Linked DNA regions of Homo sapiens: region 1 is linked to region 2. Evidence: fine-mapped expression QTL. A gene starts in region 2. The other region holds a variant in brackets. All regions are shown on one strand. Distances are between the middles of the regions.

Region 1 (5,325 bases), 23 kb after region 2:
TCAGGGGGTCCACCCTGTCCCTCTGGAGTACATGTATCACTGCACTGATTGAGAAATGGAAACACCTTGGCCCAAATACAAGATTCTGTCACACAGCCAACACTGGAAGTGACTTTATACTTTCTTATTACACAAAAGGCTTAAATATATGAGTCCTCATGTAGAACAAAATGCCTGAAATTCAGCAAGTTATGAAAACGACACTTCTCCACCCCTGAGGATATTTTATCTTTATAAAGTTGAAAATACAAAATATTAAAATAATTTGCCCTTTCTCCCCATCAAAAGGAATCACATTCTCAAAGGATTCCTACAATATACAAAATTCTGAAACAAAATTTATTTCTCCCCAAACCAAGAAGTCAATGTTAAGCTGCCAAGAAGACCCTTTTCCATAGGAGTGGAAAAGACACCTTGTTACTTTTTTATTTTAAAGTAATCATATTTAGAGAAAGACAGCAAAAGGAGTTTCTGGCCTTATGGGCTTTAATTTTTTACTTTGATTTTCAGCATTTCTTAGCATTAGTTATTGGGAGTGAAGAGAATAACTTGTTTCCGAAGTTTGGGATATTCCTGGGAAAAGCCCTGGTCTTTTCCCATGATAATTCCTCAAAAATAGTTGGTTGAAAACAGATGGCATGAATAAAAATGCTATACATCCACCTGTTCCTCTTTTCATGATTTTCACATCAAAAGCACCTGAAGTATCAATTGTGTTCAACACAGAATAGCACTAGGGGCTGAAGAGAGGTGATATCACTTGCCATAATATCAGCTGAGGTGACATGGGATCTAAACTACCCAAGAAGTCTTCACTGGCAAACCTGCCTGACACCAGGGCCTCCTGAAGAGAGCAGGACAAGCAGCTGTGCATGCTCAAATAGCAAGACGTGCAAAACACATCCTCACTCTGCTAGAAATAAAGAGTACACAGGAAGTACATGACATCAAGAACCTGCTTCTGACTACTGGGGCAGATATTCAAGAAACCTCTGCACCAAAGGTGAAGGGTAAGCAGAGAAATGGCAACACCTGGGGGTGAGGGAGAAAGAGAGACGCACATATACGCATGTGCTCACATGCACACATGACCGCCTATGAAGGCTGCCTGATTACTCCGGGCCCACAAGCAGCTGTCCAACAGCCCTCTCGACTTGCCCGGCTCAGAACTTCAGCAGCTGCAGTCTTTTAACTATCTACACTTTCTTCTCTCCTTTTAAGGCACAAACATATTTACAGTTTCAAATATACTGTCAAGATCTGAGAACCATACTAAGCAAGTTAATCACAGGCTAGTGCACAGAAGCCAGTTGGTCCTTTTTGGCTGTACGTATCACTGAGGGACGGTGTCAGGTCTGAAGCAACCAGAAGGTATGGGCCTTCTCTCCGTGCCACTGTGGGATGTTGTCAAGTCTACGCCCCACCGTCAAGGTGGGGTCACAGGAGAAGCCAAAGTGGCAAAAGCATGACCGGGATTGGGGACAATTCATATTTTTTTACTTTGCATTGAACATATTCCTAAAAGGACAGCAGCTCTTGTCTGCCTGAGCCAACTCTCAGAAAGAAGAGCAAGGTGGAGGCTGCCCTGGAGCATCCACAACCTCCTGTAAAGTCACTGTGATCATAGTTTGTTCATATTGTCTTACCCTCCCACAAAGACAGACACACACATGCACACACACTAACACGCACGCACACGCACGCACACCCCCTTCCACCATGGAGGAAATCTCTGCAACAAGAGGCACTTGAATAATATTTGGAGAGTTCCCGTGAAAAGGCCTTCCCCTCACAGTGAAGTGGGATCAACAGAACAGAAACCAGGTGCTCAGGACTCCATCTCTTCTTGGTCAAGGGGTGGTGGCACAAAGCTGATGACTTCATCATAGGTCAGGCCTAGAAATTGGGAAGGAAAAGTAAGATGTGAGAGTTTAGGCTATTCTCTTTGCTGGCAAGCACTCTGACTTCTAAGCTCAAGATCCTTCCTCTCTGTCCAGGTAGTGGTTTGATGGGCTACCTCACAGCTTGTATGTAATAGCCTACTGGAACACGTTATCACACAGAAGTTCAAGGGACATAGAAAAGAACCATTTTTTTTCTCATGTTTTTCATCGCTGAGTGCCTCTTCTTTTAAGCTCTCTACGGAGGTGCTCAAGAATGAAAGAGCACTCTCACAAGCTACAGCAACAGATGGTCTTGGCTCTTGGGATTTAACTAGAGTTCTGAACTTGTGTTTTGTGGAAAGAATATGGGACTGGACACAGGATACATGGGTTCCATTCCTGGCTATGTCCCTAACTAGTTCTAAGTTAACTGATAAGACATAAATTCTCTTTGCCCCAGTTCTACTAATTGTAAAACTGTAAAAGCTCAGAGAGATGTTGTAAATGCAATGACTCTGAAAACCTCAACTCTCCATGCAAAACTCCTATGTGAGGGGCTGTGCATAAAATCAGACCAGACATAAGTATCTCAAAGGTCCAGAGAGTATCACTGTCTACAACAGTTTCCACCAGAGAACATATTCATTCTGCATTAGAGACCTCATCTACAAGCTTTAGCAAGTTGGTTATGACCATTCAGTTTTTATTTTTCCCACCGCTTTTGGTTAGTGGTTCAAGATGTTAATCCTACCCTTAGGACTTACTTTTCCACTCATCTATAAGGAGGTCCCTGCTTTCAAAGGACTGATCATAAGGATCGGCCACTGGTTCATCATCAGGATCGTGGTACTGAGCAAAGTAGGCATGTGCAAGGGCTTGGGCCGCTGTAATTCTCTTATCTGAGTCCAATACAAGCATCTTCTCCAGCAAGTCGACAGCTATCAGTACCA[T/G]AGACAGGAAGGAAAAGAGTTTTTAACATGTTACAAAAAAGTATGCCTTATTGAGCAAACATAGTTTTGACCCTTCATATCCAAACAAAGAACTCTCCTCCAAAATACCTACTCTAGGATATATTAGCCCTCTTCTCCTTTATGTGTGTATGTGTGTGTGTGTGTGTGTGTGTATCTGTATTTTCTATGTTTTAAAATTTTTTTATTTTATTTTTGATTTGGGGGTACATGTGCACATTTGTTACATGGGTCTCACCACGGACTGATGGGGACTGGGCTTCTAGCGTGCCCATTAACCAAATAGTGAACATTGTACCCGATAGGTTATCTCTCAACCCTCACCCTCCTCCTGTATTTTGTATTTTTAAAGAATATGTTACTAAAGAAGAATTTTTTTAAATGACTGGGATTCTGTTTGAACAGGCTTTTGTGGACCGTCAATGTCAAACTGCTACCAGTGTAGTCAAACTGTATAAAACAAAGCCTACAGCTGAAGTAACCTACAATAGGTAGGCAGGGCTGTTTTTTTTTTGTCCCCCTAAGCTGTTTATTTACTAACATCAAATATTCATCAACAGATCTTCAAACAGTGAATAAACTGGGGGTTTTACATGGTGATGAGGGTGAGACATGGTATTAAAATCAAAGGGAATTTTATTTTTAAAAATTTCACTATGAAAAATTTCAAATATACAGAAACAGAAAAGTAAAAACTATGATAAAGTGAACACTCATATGCCTAGCATATTCAACAATTAACATTTTTATATTTCTGTATTTATATGTATTTTTTTCTGAACTGTTTTAAAATAAAATTATAGACATGACACTTTACCCTCCCCAAATATTTCAACACGAAGACATCTTCCTATATAATCATAATACTGTTATTATCTCTGACAAATAATTTCTAAATATCATCTAAAATCCAGTTCATGTTAAGATTTCTCCAATTATTCCAACGTTGTCTTTTAGAACTAGTTTGTTGAAACCAGGATTCAATTAGGGGCCATGCACTGCAACTGACTGGTTTTCTTTAGTCTCTCTTAGTCTAGAATAATCTTCTTACTTCTAAGCCCTGTTCTTTCCTGATTTTGATCTAAAGAGACCCTCTGATTGTCCTGAGAATGACCGTTTCTCGGGATGTGTCTGATTTTGCTTCTTTTGCTGTCATGTGTCTATACCCTGCTTTCCACTATCCCCTGTACTTCCCAAAAACCGGAAGTTAGGTCAAAAATTTTGGTAAGAATCAGGTTAAACATTTTCAGCAAAAATACAGGTGATGCTGTGCACGTGACAGTGCATTAAGGCCATCTGTCCCACTACTAATGAGCTAAAATTGATCACTGGGTTAAGATGTTTCCCCTTTGACCAAAGCAAGTAATCTGCGGGATATTTTGGTACCAAGTAAATATCCATTCTTTTCACTTATGGCTTTCTGCATTCACTGGGTTTCCTTCCCAAAAGCAATTATTTCATAAGGGGTTACAAAATGGTAATTTGTCTAACTCTATATTTCAAATGAGTATTTTTGTGTTTCAGCATGGTGGCACTTGGGAGAATAAATACTGCCATATAACCAGTTATCACTGTGGTGAAAAAGGCTTTTGAGACTTTGCAAATTACTCCTTAAATGTGGAGGGTGTGGGGGTGAGTAGTGAAGAGGACAGCTTCCTATAGAGATCTACTGCTGTGTATATTGGAGGCTGTAAAACACCCGTCCTACAGCTTGAATTCCAGAGTAATCCACTGGAGAAATATGGGCTTCAAGGGGATACAGAAACAAAGTAAATATTCATGTGTCAATTCAAGTTCATAAGTTTACACTTTACAGTACTAGGTGAATGCCTGGATTATATATATATATATTCTTCTGATGGTCTTCTCTTCTTAGAAAAAGAAACCTTATCAGCTGTTGATTTTATAATTGAACACAGATTATACGACAAGTCTCTGTTACCCTTAGGGTAAAAAGGACCATGTTCTTATAACCAATAAGGTCAGGGGCAAGAACAAATTCCTCAAAGATCTTATTAGCTGGGCATGGCATTATGTGCCTGTTGTCTCAGCTACTTGGGATAGGGAAGAGGAAGGATCACTTAAACACAAGAGTTCGAGGTTATCATGAACCGTGACTGTGCCACTGTACTCTAACCTGGGTGACAGAGTGAGATGCCATCTCTTAAAAAAAAAAAATCTTGACAGATAAATACATACACTAACATCAAGGGGTAATTTAAGTTTTAATTCATGTTTTGGGAATAGCAGTGAAACAAAGTCAGTGGCTGACAAAACAGAGCTGTTAATATTTATATTTCTGGCATGTTCCTGCTCAGTTAATATGCTGGGCACGAGCTTGTGATAGTAACACTGTGCTCCATCTGCCCAGCAAGGGGAGCCTCATTATATGACATCACTGTTTGGCAATGGGCTGTAAGGCACGTTTAAATGCTGAGAAGTACAGTGCTGAGCACCAGATGGACCAAAGCCTC
Region 2 (5,375 bases):
AGTCTGCTCTTGGCATCCCATCACCTCTGCTTTAGATCCCTACTTTAGATCACTAACACTGACCTCCAGGCTCTCCCCCTCTGCCTCCGAGCTGCTTCCTACTCCTTTCTTGCTGCTGCCAGTGTGCATCCCCCAAATCCCATCTGAACATATCACCTCCCGGCTCAAAGTCCCCAGGTCTTGAGGCTGCCTGTAGGGTCAGTCCAGATTCAGCTTGACCAAGCCAGCTGCTGGCCTCCACGTGCCACACTGACTTCTCCATCTTGTCCAAATAGTCCAGTCTCATTCAGACACTGCACAGGCAAAGCTATACATTTTGCAGCTAAATATTCTGGTTTTCTGCCATTCTGTCAAACACCCCCATCAGCCAGAGGCAGCCAAGGCTTCTTAATCCTTGCTTCATGCTAGAAAGAGCTCCAAGGTCCAGACTCACATCTGTGTCCCCAGGAAAGGTGAGTTGGTGCTAACCCTGTGAGGACTGGCAGATGTGTCTTCATGGTGTTAAAGCTGGGTAAAAAGCAAAGCAGCTGTGCAGACTGCCCCCTGCCAGGCAAGCACCCCACAAAGTCCTTCCTGCCTCTTCCTGCCTGCCTTTGGCTAAAAGCATCTTTCCAGAGAGAATCACACTTGACAGGCAAAGGCACAGGACTGCCAGGGAAGGAGGCTCTCCCCGCCACACCCGGAATAGAAACCCTAGACCCTCCCCCACCTTGCTCCCCAGCGGCATGTAAGGCCTGCAAATGCCCCAGAACCCAGTGCAGCCCAACTCACAAGTCATAGAAGTTGCGCAGGGAGGAGGCTGGGGTGAAGACATCCAGGAGCCCAATGACCTGGGGAAGAAGTCACCTGTGAGGGCTAGACAGACGCTACCTTCTCCTCCCACCTCCTCCTGGGCCCTGGCCATGCACAGGGCCATCCACCCTTTCCTAATACACCACCTCCAGCAGGAGGCATGTCTCCAACCTTCTTGGAAGCAGTAAAAAGGGCAGAGGCCTAGAGGAATCCCCTGGATTTGGAGGGAGTTTGCAATAAATCATGACAGAGAGTCAGGCTGGGGAGAAGGGAAGGTGGGGAGAATGATGTGTGCTCATTGCTGTCAAGTCTGGTGTCAGGGCAAGCAACACAAACCCACTCTCAACTCACCTAGGCAGCAGGAAAGCATAAGGGGAGGGTGGAAGGGAAAAAGGAGGGAACAGAGAAGGAGCTTTTCAGCCAGCAAACTCCCTGCCCCTGACCTTGGGTCTCCAGCCACATCCATCCTTGCCTGCCACAGGGCTGGTTCAGAGCCAAGGGCAAGATCACCCTGGCTGGAGGCCATAGGGGAGGGGTTTGCTGGAGAAGGATGGGCTTAAAATGTACATAACATTTTGAAATCATTCTTTGAAATGTCTGCCCTCCAATCTAGGTATCCTGCAGCAAAGCCTGGCTGCCAGGCCCTGAGCTGGGCCCCTGGTTTTCCCAGCTGCTTCTATCAGACAAGACAATCTGATGGTCATGTGCTCAGACCGGGAGCCTCGCTGCCGAGATTGAAACCCCAGCTCTGCTACTGACTAACCATCTAATCTGTGAGCCTTGCTGTGCTTTAGTTTCCTGTCTGTGACATGGGGGCAGTAGTACTCATATATCATGAGGACTAGACAAGTTAGTGTATGCAGAGCTCTTAGAACATAGGAAGTGCTCAATATGTGTATATTGCTATTGTTATCAGGGTCACGTGGACACAACGCTAACTAGGATTCTAGTCCCAGCTGGCCACAAGCTCTCAGACATGGAACCAATTACAAAGTTCCCCTGTGCCAATTTCCTCTGTAGGATAACACAGTCTGTACCTCACAAAGTGCATTCTGCCAAAAATACCCTTTGACCTCTTCCTGGAAAGTGGGCAGGGAAGGTCTCGGCACCCCCTCCTTTCAATAGTGAGGCGAGAGGCACCGTCAGGGGAGCAGGGAGGAGACTGTCCCGAGCTCTCCATACCGGGAGGCCCCGCCTGCGCCTGCCCCTGACTCCCCAGGGCAGCCCCCACCCCCTCCCCGGGGCAGCCACCACCTACGTTCTCATGCTGCATGTGCTTCAGCAGCAGCAGCTCCCGGTAGGCGCGCTTGGCGAAGATCTCGGACTGAAAGGGTCGGCTCAGCTTCTTGATGGCCACCTTCTCCCCTGACCGCTTGTCGATGGCCGAGCTGTCGGGCACAGGCCGGTCAGCAGGCGAGGCTCTCCTCCTGGGCCGTATCTCCCAGACCGCCCTGACCCCTCCCACTGGGCAGCTGGGCTGAGAGGGGACTAGGCCCACCACCTAGAATATGGGGGAGCCGCGGGACGCAGGGCAGGGAGTAGGAAGCCAGGCAGGAGCTGAGAGAGGGGCACAGCGCCAGGGGCAGCAACGTCTCATTGCGACGGGATCCACGGCAGGGCGGGAGTCTCACTCTGTCTGCAACTTGGCGAGCCACCTCCCCCTCTTGGGGCCTCGGTGTACTCGTCTGTAACAGTGAGGATCTGCCCGATGAACTCTGGGGTCTTGCAAGTGTACAGTCCTGGAGAACCAGGCCCAGTCCCAACTCAACCCCCAGAGACCTCACTCAGCCACTCGGTGAGAAAAGGGAGATGGCCGCTGGGTGGCCCCGGGGAGGGCGCTGGGCCTTGAGGTCCGCGGTCAAGGTGGCGCTGGCGAGGGGCCAGCCCAGGGCGGGCTGGGCGGAAAGGGGAGAGCCTGGCGCCCGCCCCCCGCCCCCCAGCGGCCCAGGGGTCTCACCACACGGAGCCATAGGCCCCGCTGCCGACGTGCGTCGGGGACACGTAGGTCTTGGGCAGCTCCCAGGCTGTCTTGTTGACGTCCTGCTTGTAGAAGCCCTTTTTCCGGATGAGGCTCATCCCGGGCACCCGATCTCGGCGGCCCCAGCGTGGCGGCTGCGTTCGCGGCCCAACGGGCTCCCAGCGCCCCGACCCCCGCTGCGCCCGCCCCGCGCCGCCCGCTCCTCCCCCGCGCGAGGGCGGGGGCCCCGGGCTGCTACGCTCCCACCTGCCGGCTCGCCCAGGTGCGCCGGGGCCGCCACGCCCGGGCCTGTCCAGCCCTGCGCTCCCGCGCTTCCGCCCGGCCCGACGGAGCCACTGCGGCAGGTGCGGCCCAGGCACGGGGTCGGGGCTGCCCAGCGGGACCCCGGTGCCTCCCAGCCGAGCGCGGGCCAGCGGCGGGGCTGGTGGGTCCAAGCAGGAGCGGGGAGGCAGTGCTTCCCAGTTCCCTCCAGCCCCGGTCTCCGTAGGAAGAGCTCCCTGTGACTGTGAACACACAGGAAAGCAGAACAAAACCCCACAACCTCTTCATTATGGAAAATGTCAAACATGCAGGAAAGAATTGAACAGAGTAAGCCAGCGCTTCTCACACTTCAGTGTGCTCAGGAATCCCCTGGGCATTTTATTTGATTAAAATACAGATCCTGACTCAGTAGGTTTGGGGTGGAGCCGAGATTCTGCATTTCTAGCCAGCTCCCAGGTCTGAGGCTTCTGAACCACATCTGATAGGAGGTTCTAATGAACCCCCGTGACCCCAATTCCCCAGCAACCACAACTCATAATCAATTTTATTTCATCCACATTCCTCTCCCACCATCGTTTTGAAGCAAAACCCAGGCGTCATATCATTTTATTCATAAATATTTTTGTATCTCTAAAACGTAAGGATTTTTAAAAGTACGTATCCACAATACTATATATATATATTTTTTGAGACTCTGTCGGAGTGCAGTTGCCATCTCGGCTCACTGCAACCTCCGCCTCCCGGGTTCAAGCAATTCTCTGCCTCCGCCTCCCGATTAGCTAGGATTGTAGGTGCCTGCCACCAAACCCGGCTAATTTTTGTATTTTTAATAGAGATGGGGTTTCACCATCTTGGCCAGGCTGGTCTTGAACTCCTGACCTCGTGAACCACCCGCCTCGGCCTCCGAAAGTGTTGGGATTACAGGCGTGAGCCACCGCGCCTGGCCCACAATACATTCTTAAACCTAAAATTAATAGCACTAATTCTATAATACCAAATATCCACGCAGGTTCAAATGTGCAGGATTTTTGTTTGTTTTTGACATGGAGTCTCACTCTATTGCCTAGGCTGGAGTGCAGTGGCGCCATCTCAGCTCACTGCAACCTCCGCCTCCCAGGTTCAAGCAATTCTCTTGCCTCAGCCTCCTGAGTAGCTGGGACTACAGGTGCACACCACCACTCCTAGCTAATTTTTGTATTTTTAGTAGAGACGGGGTTTCACCATGTTGGCCAGGCTGGTCTTCAACTCCTGACCTCAGGTGGTCCGCCCACCTCAGCCTCCCAAAGTGTTTGGATTACAGAAGTGAGCCACCGCACCTGGCCCAAATGTGCAGTTTTGAACACAGTTTCTGTGGACTTCCTAAGGCTCTATGAGGACAATGACTAATTGGGGCCCTTGCCACCTGTCTGGTGGCCTGTGCAGCCTGATGGAGATTCTTTGCTCAAACCACAAAGGCCTCTGAGGAGCAAGGTGGGCAGGTGGGGGGAGGAGATGGCTGCAAGGGCTCTGGATGCCCAGCCTGACTTGTCCAACCCCTCTCTTGCCCAGGCATGGGGCTGTGGAAGGGGCGGGGACCACCTGCTTCACTTTGTCAAAAAGAAGGTCTATTGAACAAGGAAAGAAATTTGCTAGGGGCTTACAGCAAGCCGGGGGCCCACACTAGGGAGTCTGCAGCCCCCAAACTCTGTGCCCCAAGCCCTCCCGGGCAGTCCTGCAGCCTCAGGCACAGCCTGGAAGATCATTCTGAGATGAGGGTGGGGTGCCATCATCACACAACAACACCTGCCATTATTTCAGTCAGGCAATCTGTCTTTTTCATTTCTGGCACATGGCAATATAACAGCAAATGTGTGGAGAATGAATGGAGGAGTCAGCCCATTAGATGTAAAAGAGTCATTTAATACACACTTGTGTTTGCCATGTGCCCGTCATTAAGTGTTTTATATAACTCACTTAATCCTGGTAAGAGGCCTGTGAGTCAGTAATATGATTATCCTCATTTTAGAGATGAGGAACCCGAGGTACAGAGAGGCTAAGTAATTTGCCCAAGGTAACACAGCTGGTAAGGGCAGAGCTGGGTGAAAGCAAGTACAGCCTGATTCTAGAGTCCCTGCTCTTGGCTGCGAGGCTATGCGGTGGCCTAGAGTTGACAGAATTGCTCCTCAAAGGAAATGGCCTTGCCCACATCATAAGGACATGTCTACTGATCCAACCATGTCTCCCTCAGTCCATCCTGCCCTGGGGTATCTGATATTTTCCCCAGCCTTTTCCCTCCCCCACCCCCTACTCTGGCCCTGAGACCCCATGAGAGCCTAAGGAACGGGGTCGCTTGCCTGTGAGTGCT

Evidence for each region. PIP is the estimated chance that this variant, and not a neighbour inherited with it, causes the effect. A credible set is the group of variants that fine-mapping cannot tell apart.
Region 1: its variant is the best candidate, but not a certain one, in a credible set for the expression of MAPK13 in fetal neocortex (Walker 2019, PIP 0.54).

The regions. Positions count from the first base shown.
Region 1 is chr6:36,104,951-36,110,275 of GRCh38, reverse strand. MAPK14 (mitogen-activated protein kinase 14) reads right to left here. Exons shown (of 12, transcript NM_139012.3): 11 at 2,648-2,821; 12 at 1-1,896. The coding sequence ends at 1,829. Among named protein-coding and RNA genes, the nearest start is that of MAPK13, 23 kb to the left of the region's middle. The variant T/G (reference allele first, on the strand shown) is at 2,834.
Region 2 is chr6:36,128,076-36,133,450 of GRCh38, reverse strand. MAPK13 (mitogen-activated protein kinase 13) reads right to left here and starts at 2,938. Exons shown (of 12, transcript NM_002754.5): 1 at 2,750-2,938; 2 at 2,051-2,180; 3 at 772-830. The coding sequence starts at 2,868. RefSeq lists enhancers at 1,213-1,462, 2,173-2,292, 2,184-2,787 and silencers at 1,933-2,042, 2,683-2,752, 2,793-3,042.